Linked DNA regions of Homo sapiens: region 2 is linked to region 1. Evidence: fine-mapped expression QTL. Tissue or cell type: whole blood. Region 1 holds a variant in brackets; the other region holds the start of a gene. All regions are shown on one strand. Distances are between the middles of the regions.

Region 1 (5,257 bases):
AGGCCCGGCCGCTCCGCCGTCCGCGGCCTGCACCGTGGCCGGCGCGGGATACTCCATCTTCCCCGCAAACCCTCACCGGTAGAGAGCCTCTCAGGCGCCTAGGTATCGCGAGATTTGGTGGGTGGTACTTGGCCCAGCCAACAAATCTCGCGAGGTTTGGGCGCTGCACCCGCGCTGCCGTGCGGGACCCCGCGCTTATTTTGCTTTGCTACCTCTGGTACCTCAGAGCGTGTGCCGTGGATTCGGAAACCTGTCGCTGATTCCGCAGCAGTGACCCCCCCCTCCCGGAGAGGCTCGTGTGGTTTTGGCTCATGGCTCTCACCTTGCTCACGGTCAGCCCTTGATACTTTTCATTTCGTTCTCAAGGTCCCGTTATGTGGGAGTGTTTTCGCCATTTCATTCACAGGGAAACTGAGGCCCAGAACCTAAAAATGGTTAACTCAAGAGCTCGCTACTAGTAAGTAGTAGTACAGCTAAGGTTCCATATTACTGCTAATAATACATACTATTTGTTGAGTTCCAAGTGCCAGCTCCCAGCTCTGATCTTCCCCGAGACTCCGGACCTGTATACATCCAGTTGCCTCTTCCACAGTTCACTCGAATGGCTAATAGGCTTCTCCAATGTAGCTGTCAGACCCCAAATTTTATCTTCCAACCCCAGAGCTGCTCCTTCCCGTGTCTTTGGGAGCCACCATCTCTTGCCTAGGTTATTGTAGTAGCAACCTCACTGGCATTCCCAGCACAGCAGTTCCAGGAATCCTCTTATGACAAGTCAGATCATGACGCTTAGGTTCTCAAATCCTCCAACAGCTTCCCATCTCACTCTTAGTAAAAGCCAAAGTCCGGCCAGGCGCGGTGGCTCACGCCTGTAATCCCAGCACTTTGGGAGGCTAAGGGGGGGCGGATCACCTGAGGTCCGGAGTTCGAGACCAGCCTGACCAACATGGAGAAACCCCGTCTCTACTAAAAATACAAAATTAGACGGGTGTGGTGGCACATGCCTGTAATCCCATCTACTCGGAGGCTGAGCCAGGAGAATGGCTTGAACCCGGGAGGCAGAGGTTGCTGTGAGCCGAGCTGGCGCCATTGCACCCCAGCCTGGGCAACAAGAGCGAAACTCCGACTAAAAAAAAAAAAAGCCAAAGTCCTTACTTCGACCAACAAGGCCCTGTACAATCTGACTTCCCTTAACCTCCCTGATCCTGATGTGTTACTCAGTCCCCAACTCCTTAATTCCTGTCCCAGTTATCCAGGCCTCCTGGGGTGAATTTCTCTCATATATCTTCATGGCTCAGTCTCCCACTTCCTTCTCTGGCTACTCTATCTAAAATACCTTGTCTGGCTATCCCATCTAAAATGTTACTTTTCCACACACACTTCATGTCCTTCTTTCCTGCTTTATTTCTTTTATATTTTACCTTTTATCTTGCTTATTGTCTGTCTCCCGACTAGAAGGCAAGCCCCAGGAAGGCAGGGATTTTTGTCTCTTTTCTTTTCTTTCTTTTTTTAAATTGTTTTTGAGGCAGAGTTTTGCTCTGTCGCCAGGTTGGAGTGCAGTGACGCGATCTCGGCTCACTGCAGCTTCCGTCTCCCGGGTTCAAGCAATTCTCCAGCCTCAGCCTCCTGAGTAGCTGGGATTACAGGCACATGCCACGGCACCCAGCTAATTTTTATATTTTTGGTAGAGACGGGGTTTCACTATGTTAGCTAGGCTGATCTCAAACTCCTGATCTCATAATCTGCCTGCCTCGGGCTCCCAAAATGCTGAGATTACAGGCACATGCCACCTTGCGTAGCCTTTTGTCTCTTGTCATTGCACCTGAATCTCCAGCACTTTGAAATAGAACCTGGACCCTCCTAGGTATATACAAAACATTTGTTTAATGAATGAAGCTTTTAATATTACTAGCTTATTTCAACCTCATTTTTTCAAATACTTATGGAGAATTTACTATGAGCTAGATGATATTTTGAGCATGGAAATATAGTGGTGAACAAGACAGGGAAGCTGTAGTAAAGTATTTTTTATTGTAGTGGAGGAGAGTACAATAAGAAAGTTAACAGTAGGCCTGGCGCAGTGGCTCATGCCTGTAATCCAGCACTTTGGGAGGCCGAGGCAGGTGGATCACGAGGTCAGAAGATCAAGACCATCCTGGCTAACATGGTGAAACTCCGTTTCTACTAAAAATACAAAAAAATTAGCCGGGCGTGGTGGCGGGCGCCTGTAGTCCCAGCTACTCGGGAGGCTGAGGCAGGAGAATGGTGTGAACCCAGCAGGCGGAGCTTGCAGTGAGCCGAGATCGTGCCACTGCACTCCATCCTGGGCAACAGAGCGAGACTCCATCTCAAAAACAAAAAAAGTTAACAATAATAAGTGCTAAGGAGAAGATAAAACAGGATTGCATCTCAGGTGAATGATGTGTTAGGAACATTAATCAGGGTGGCATCAGGAGAAGCCTCTGGGAAAATGACATTTGAGCTAAGACCTGATTAATGAGAAGGCGTAGCCATGCAAAGAGCTGGGCAAGAGTGTTCTAGCAGAGAGAACAGCAGGTACAAAGGCCCTGAGGCAGGAGAGAGCATGATGTGTTGGAGGAACAGGAAAAACGACAGCATGGCTGGAGCCCAGTGAACAAGGAGGAAAGTAATATCAGAGGAGGCCAAAGAGAGACAGATATGAATTATTCTTGCTTGAGATCATATAGCTCATTGGTGTAATTTAGTCATTTATACTACAAGTATTTCCTTATTTATACTACAAATATTGAGCACCAGCACTATGTCAGGCCTCAGGCCCTAGAGCTTCCAAGCTTCCAATACAGTAGGTGACTGATGTTTGGCCAGTGTTTTACAATTTTTTTTTTTTT[A/TA]TAGACGGAGTCTCTGTTGCCCAGGCTGGAGTGCAGTGGCACCATCTCAGTTCACTGCAACCTCCACCTCCTGGGTTCAAGCAATTCTCCTGCCTCAGCCTCCCGAGTAGCTGGGATTACAGACATCCATCACTATACCCAGCTATGTTTTCTATTTTTAGTAGAGACGGGGTTTCATCTTGTTGGCCAGGCTGGTCTTGAACTCCTGGCCTCAGGTGATCTGCCCGCCTTGGCCTCCTAAAGTGCTGGGATTACAGGCATGAGCTACCACACCCAGCCTACAATTTTTTTTTTTTTTTTTCCGAGACAGGGTCTCACTAGTGCAGTGGTATGATCATAGCTCACTGTAACCTTGAACTCCCACACTCAAGTGATCCTCCAGCCTCAGCCTCCTGAGTAGCAAGGACTACAAGTGGACACCAACATGCCCAGCTAATTAAAAAAAATTTTTTTTTTGTAGAGACAGGGTTTCCCTATATTGCCCAGGCTGGTCTCAAACTCCTGAGCTCAAGCGATCCTCCTGCCTCAGCCTCCCAAAGTGCTGGGATTCCTGGTGTGAACCACACACCCAGCCCAGGGCAGTGCTTTACAGTTTGCAAAGCACCTACATTATAGCATTTAATCCTCAGGGTGGTTTCTGTGAGGGATTTCTTCATAAGTGATGATAAAGAAACAGACTAGGAAAGGTAAAGGTTTTGTGAAGATCACACAGCTAGTTAGGTACGAGCCCATGCTTGAACACTGGTCCTTAGATTGCAAATCTATGTCCTTTTGCCAAAACCAGATGACCAGCCTAAAAGTCAGTGACTGCACATTATTTATTCTCTTTTTATTTATTTATTTACTTTTAGAGACGGGGTCTCACTATGTTAGCCAGGATGGTCACAAACTACTTATTTATCTTAAGAGTTCTAGTTACTTACACTTGCATATAGCATAAGTTATTCAGGGATAATCCAAGGGATACAGGGGATTTTTGTCGAAGTCGCAGAACCCACAAGGATATTTTTAATACTATGTAACAAATACTGGGAGTGGAGTATATAAGTTGCTTTGCATATTATTGGAAAACAACCTCCAATCCAATTACATGCTCAAAATAATGTCCATTTATTCTCCAATGAGTGCTGTCAGGGTTCATCCCCTGTGCCATGGAGGCAGAGTCCTGAGCTACCCTGCTGAGGGTCTGAACAGCCTTCATTGTCACCAGTTTTCTATTTTGTCTTTGTGTAAGTGCTTCCAGGAATGGCCCAGGCCTGGACTCCTTGCTGGGACCTGGCAGTGCAGGTGATGCCTTATATTTGTTGGGCTGGCTTTTTATTTCCTCCTTGTGGAAAATGAGAACCATTTTCCAACACATCCTACTGTGTATTGTTGCCATGGGAGATGAACAATCCCAGGGAAATGACTTTGCTAAGGGACGGGAACTGGCTACTGTTCAGCATACATTTCAGTTGCTTAAATACTGACTCTGTATGTGCATGTGTGTGCATGTGCAAACGAAACTATAGTGCTTAAGATATAGTTCTTGCTCTCAAAGAGATTCAACTCTAGTTTTTCTTTCTTTTCTTTTTTTTTTGAGACAGAGTCTCACTCTGTCACCCAGGCTGGAGTGCAGTGGTGCGATCTCGGCTCACTGCAACCTCCGCCTCCCAGGTTCAAACAATTCTCCGCCTCAGCCTCCTAAGTAGCTAGGACTACAGGTGTGCACCACCACACCAAGCTAATTTTTGTATTTTTATTAGAGACAGGATTTTACCATGTTGGCCAGGCTGATCTTGAACTCCTGATCTCATGTGGTCTGACCACCTTGGCCTCCCAAAGTGCTGGGATTACCAGTGTGAGCCACCACGCCCAGCCTTAAACTCTAGTTTTTCTAACTCTAGTATGTCTAATCTAGTGACAGACATAAAAGTATCTACTGAGTATGTAATATCAGAGAGTATGTTTTAACTGCTATAACAGAGATAATGACTAGGCTGGGCACAGTGGCTCATACCTGTAATCCCAGCACTTTGGAAGGCTGAGGCGGGAGGATTGCTTGACCCCAGGAGTTCAAGACCATCATGGGCAACATGGCAAGACCCTATCTCTACAAAATTAAAAAAATTAGCTGGGTGTGGTGGTGTGTGCCTTTGGTCCCAGCTACTCAGGAGGCTGAGGTGAGAGGATCACTTGAGCCTGCAGTGAGCTGTTGTACCACTGCACTACCACCTGGGTGACACAGCAAGACCCTGTCTCAAAAAAAAAAAAAAAAGGGCCAGCGTGGTGGCTCAGGCCTGTAATCATAGCACTTTGGGAGGCCAAGTGGGCGGATCACCTGCGGACAGGAGTTCAAATGGTGAAACCTCGTCTCTACTAAAAAATACAAAAATTAGCTAGGCATGGTG
Region 2 (5,000 bases), 120 kb after region 1:
GCTCATTTTTGCCTGTGAATCAGGGTAGCTTTGGCCTTAGGTTGTTAGCAGATGGGAATTTGGGGAGGGGAAGGCAGGTAGTAAGTGGATGAGAGGGTTGTAGTTGTCAGTGGAAAGATGGACTAGTGGAAAGACTGCTGAAACCATATGCACCAGGAAGACAGTAAGAGCTTGCTTGCTTCCTCTCAGTTTCAAAAGCCCTGGACTTTTTTTTTTTTTTTTTTTTTTTTTGAGACAGTCTTGCTCTGTCACCCAGGCTGGAGTACAGTGGCGTGATCTCGGCTCACTGCAACTTACCCTGCCTCCCAGGTTCGAGCAATTCTCTTGCCTCAGCCTCCCGAGTAGCTGGGATTACAGGTGCACACCACCACGCCCGGCTAATTTTTTTAATTTTTAGTAGAGACGGGGTTTCACTGTATTGGCCAGGCTGATCATGAATTCCTGACCTCAAGTGATCCGTCCACCTCGGCTTCCCAAAGTGTTGGGATTACAGGCGTGAGCCATCATGCTTGGCCAGCCGTGGACTATTGAGATTGTGGGAGGGCTCTTCAATTTAACAAAAATTAATTGATACTTGTTCCTTGCCAGATAAAGAACTGAGGTCTGAGGCTGCACGGGTGAATAAGAAACATTCTCTGGGAGCCCATAGTACAATGGGGAAGAAGAACACATAAACAGATGCCTTTAATAAACAGATATAAATGCAGTGATACAAGAACATGCATCATAATACGGAACCAATAAGCAGACCACACTCAGCTGGGGTCGGCCAGGAGGAGCTTTTCAGAGAAGGGCTCCTCATTGTCGTTGATGATTATAATTTAAGGGATGAGGAAAAATGAGGTGAAAAGGTGGGAGAGGCCAAAGGGAGGGTCATTCCAGACAAGTCAGTGCAAACAAAGACACAACAGAAGTAGCTCGATGTGTGTAGGAGAGCTGCAAGGCACATTCACGGTATAAAGGGTGTGGAACAAATTGGGGGAGCTTATTGAGGATCTCTGTGCCTGGCATGGGCACTGTGAGTGGTGAGAAGCCTGTGAGCAAGCGCAGAGGGAAGGCCTGACCTCCCAGCCCATCGGCAGTGCTCTGGTTGTGCCCACCTCTCCCCCAGCAAACTGCCTTTCCTCATTCCTTAGCTCCATCTCTACAGTTGGAGATTGGCACTAAGGGGCTATGAGGGAACCTCGTGAGGACTTGTCCTTCCCTTTGTTGGTCAGTGGCCATCTGGTGTCTGAAGAGAACCGCTGGCAGCTGCAGTGCCTCTGCTACAGCCAGGCTGTCCCAGCTGCTCACAGACCTCAAGCTCAGCCATCCTTCTCCCTCCACTGGCCTTGACCCAGACTTTCCCTGGCATTCTGACTAGGGAACCAGGACCCCTGCTCCTGGGGTCTGGACACAGACCTTCCAGAAACGCAGATGAAGAGCCCTGGCCATGCTTGTCAGGGGCATATCCTCACCCTGGCTCAAGAAATGGCAGGCTATCTGCATGAATCACAGCTGGGCCTTTCATAGTCAGTTCCACATTCTCCTCTCCCAACTGAACAAAGTTGAAAGGGACTGGGATCCCAGGCTAGGCAGGATGCTGTGTTGTTTGTGACAGCCACTCTACCCTCTGCCACCCCATCCCCCACTTCCCTGCCTTTCACAGCCTATATGCCTGGTTGGTACCCAGTAAACTTCACAGCAGGACTGATGTTTGGCATGTTTCCTGGCCTCTTCATGCCACTACTGATAGAGGAGCCACTATCTCTGGTCTCCATCCTGATGTCATGTGGAGGCCTACTATCTGTGGATAGAGTTACTGCTGACAAGGCAGCCTGAAGCTTTAAAGTGTATCCATGCCTTCAACAAAGATTGTTGCAGGCTGTCTAGTATTCTACATTGGTGCCCCAAGGTTCTGTGCCTTTGAGGAGAAATTCCCACAGAAAAACAGCTTGTTCGCCAATAGCTCCACAGCAGCCTAACACTCCCCTTCTTCCAGTAGAGAAGACCTAAGATGTGAACCTACTCTCCCTGCGCAGGCTACAGACTAAAGGCTAGACTCCGCAGTCTGCCTGTCACCTCCTCTCCCACTATATATTCCTACCTTGGTGTACCCTCTTCAGGCGCCTGGAGCTGCACCTCATTGCTGTGTGTGTGTGATTTGTGGTTGTGCACATGCTCTCCACTTTGTCAAGGACCACTTTTGTCAGCATACTGCTGTTCTTTCTTCAAGACTCAGCTTCTTCAGCTAGCCCTGCCCACTCTCGGCAGAGTCAGTCCCTTCCGCTTGTGCTCCCACATTGCCTCTTGCTCAAAAGTACTTACCATAACCTTTCCAGGCTAGGCGCCTCCAGCTCCTTCTAGGGGCGAGCCACCACCTCAGAACTCACTATATTTGCAAAATAAACAGCCCTCAGCATTGTAGAGGGAATGGCCCAAAATCTTAGACCCAGTTCAACGCTCCACTTCGCGGTAATCATCTTGCTCAAGTTTTCACCACAGCCTTGCCTAGCCTGGGCTACTCTTAGGGCAGGCTTGGAAGGAAGTGCAGCTTCCTGAATTAGCTGATGTTTGGTAAGTGGTGGTGGAGGAAAAGGGTGGGGCTTGAGGATATTATAACTCGGGTCACCCCTGAGTGTTGCTTTTGGTCATTGGGGTGCCTCATATTGCCAGACAAGAGCTCAGACCTGAGGAGAGTGACTAGCTTCTCTGTGTCCCAGGTAAGCACTTCGGTCTAATTACTGCCTGCTCCTTCCACAGCTGTCTTGTCCTCATCCCTCCTGTTTGGCTCACACCAGGGGAAGTGGACACTGGAAAGATTAAGCCAGCTGGTTCTCTTTCTTTGTTTTTGAGATGGGGTCTCTCTCTCTATCACCCAGACTGGAGTACAGTGGCACAGTCAGGGCTCACTCCAGCCTTGACCTCCTGGGTTCAAGTGATCCTCCCACCTCAGCCTCCGGAGTAGCTGAGACTACAGGCGCACACCACCACACCCAGCTAATTTTTGTTATTTTTTTCTAGCGATGGCGTTTTGCCATGTTGCCCAGGCTAGTCTCACATTCCTGGGCTCAAGCAGTCTGTCTGCCTCAGCCTCCCAAAGTGCTGGGATTACAGGTGCAAGCCACCACACCCAGCCTGCCAGCTGGTTCTCGATGGCAGCTCCCAACATCAGTAGAGGTCCCTGGGGTACTTTTCAGGAGGAAAACTCACTTCGTGTAGCCCATTCAGCTAAGGGAAGCCACGGGGCCCTTAGGCAAACAGACCCTGGGCTCTGGGGATACTGCAGTGAAGGAGACATGTCCCTCCCCACAGGGAATCTCAGTGGGAAGAGACAGAGCTGAATACATTTACCTAGCATATAAATATTAGGGCTACTTGGGGATTGCTTCACAGATTCTGTCATGTAAAAATGCTGAATAAATATTGAATGGATGAGGGAATGAATGAGTGAGTGAATGAATAAATGAACTAGCTGGGCCTTGAGAAAGACACGTGTGTAGCCCTTAGTCCTTTTCGAAGGTAATTGCCCCAGTTACCTCATTTTATCCTTGAAATAGACCTGCAGCATAGAACAAGAATTCCACACCCCTATTTGACAGATTTGGAAACTCAGCATAGGTATGTATGGTTTGGGGAGATTTATCAGAAGCTGATTTGTTGCTTTATTAAATAAAAAACTACCCACTCCCCTTGCTTCCAATTTTGGAAAGGCACATTAGCACATACCTATACCAGACCCTGTGCCGGCCATGAGTGCAGAGGTGATCAAGTTGGGTGGGGTAAGGAGGTGAAGAAACTAGAAGCAGAGCTATCAGTTTAGGAGGCTGTTGTAATAATCAGGCCGGAGGATGGTCTGGTGCAGTGTGTGGGAATGGGGAGGAGGGGATGCAGAGGAGAGCTCTTAGAGAGCCTGAGATCCAATTGCATAGAGGAGGTGAGGGTGAGGGATGCGCGCAGGCAGCCCGAACGGCCGTGTGAGTGAGCACACTTCGATGTCTCCAGTCAAGGTGGAGAACAGAAGAGCTTTGTGGGGGTAAGGTGATGGAAAAATGAGTATGGCTTTGTTGAATTTGAGGAGCTTCTCCACCATCCAGATAGTGATGTCTAACAGACCACTGGGATTTAGGATTTGGCTGAGGCCAAAGGTAGATTTGGGAGCCCTGACACAGCTATTAATGAAACCTTGGGAATGGGCGAGATAAAGGGAGTGTAGAGGGAGGGCATGACCGAAACTTGGGAACCCCATTGTCTGAAGGAACAGAAATTACTGATGAAGACTACGAGAGACTCAGGAAGGAGACCTAGGAGAGACTGGCCGTGAAAGCCAAGGACAGGGGGAATTCTGTAGCAAAGAGAATGACTACTGGCTTTGCATGCCTGAGAGAGGGCAGCAGAGGTGGGGACTGAGGAAAAGGCTTGGGATTGGGCAGTTAGGAGGTCACCAGTGACCACGTGGAGGGCAAATTAGTGAGCATAGTGGGAGTAGGCAAGGAGGGGAGTGTAGGGGTGGGAAGGTACTATATTTCCAGAAGTTCTGCTGTTGCAAGGAAGGGAGGTAAAGTGACTCAGTGGACAGATGTCTCTTCCCATATTGGGCCCTCTGCTGTGTTTCCCTTTTCCCCCACCCCTAAAGAGCACCTGACTCACTGAGGGCTCCCTTGGGACTATGGAAACAGCAATACCACCTCCAGCTCGGATGAGCGAAGTATCTGACATTTCTACAGTTCCTTACAGTGTGCAAAGGACCACTAACTCCTTTAATCCTCACAAGAACTGAGCTTTTCATGTTATAGAGGAAATGGAGAATCATAGAGTTTCAGTTCAGATTCAACTACATAAATCTGAATGCACATCTGAGCAAGTTCCTTTGCTCTCGTGATCTCATTTGCCCCACACAACCCTTTGATACATGTTGGTCCCATTTCACAGATGAAAAGCCTGGAGGTTGAGATGGGGTGCAGCTGCCTTGTGGAGAGCAGGGTTCCCACCTCTGAGTACAGGGCTCTTTCTGCTCTGCA

Evidence for each region. PIP is the estimated chance that this variant, and not a neighbour inherited with it, causes the effect.
Region 2: HK3 starts here. The variant in region 1 is fine-mapped to the expression of HK3 in whole blood (INTERVAL, PIP 0.97).

The regions. Positions count from the first base shown.
Region 1 is chr5:177,017,539-177,022,795 of GRCh38, reverse strand. It overlaps ZNF346 (zinc finger protein 346), which reads right to left and starts at 100. Exons shown (of 7, transcript NM_012279.4): 1 at 1-100. The coding sequence starts at 57. It also overlaps a transcript of UIMC1 not described here. RefSeq lists enhancers at 286-335, 1-396. The variant A/TA (reference allele first, on the strand shown) is at 2,868.
Region 2 is chr5:176,896,969-176,901,968 of GRCh38, reverse strand. HK3 (hexokinase 3) reads left to right here and starts at 2,623. Exons shown (of 19, transcript NM_002115.3): 1 at 2,623-2,702. RefSeq lists an enhancer at 1,302-1,803.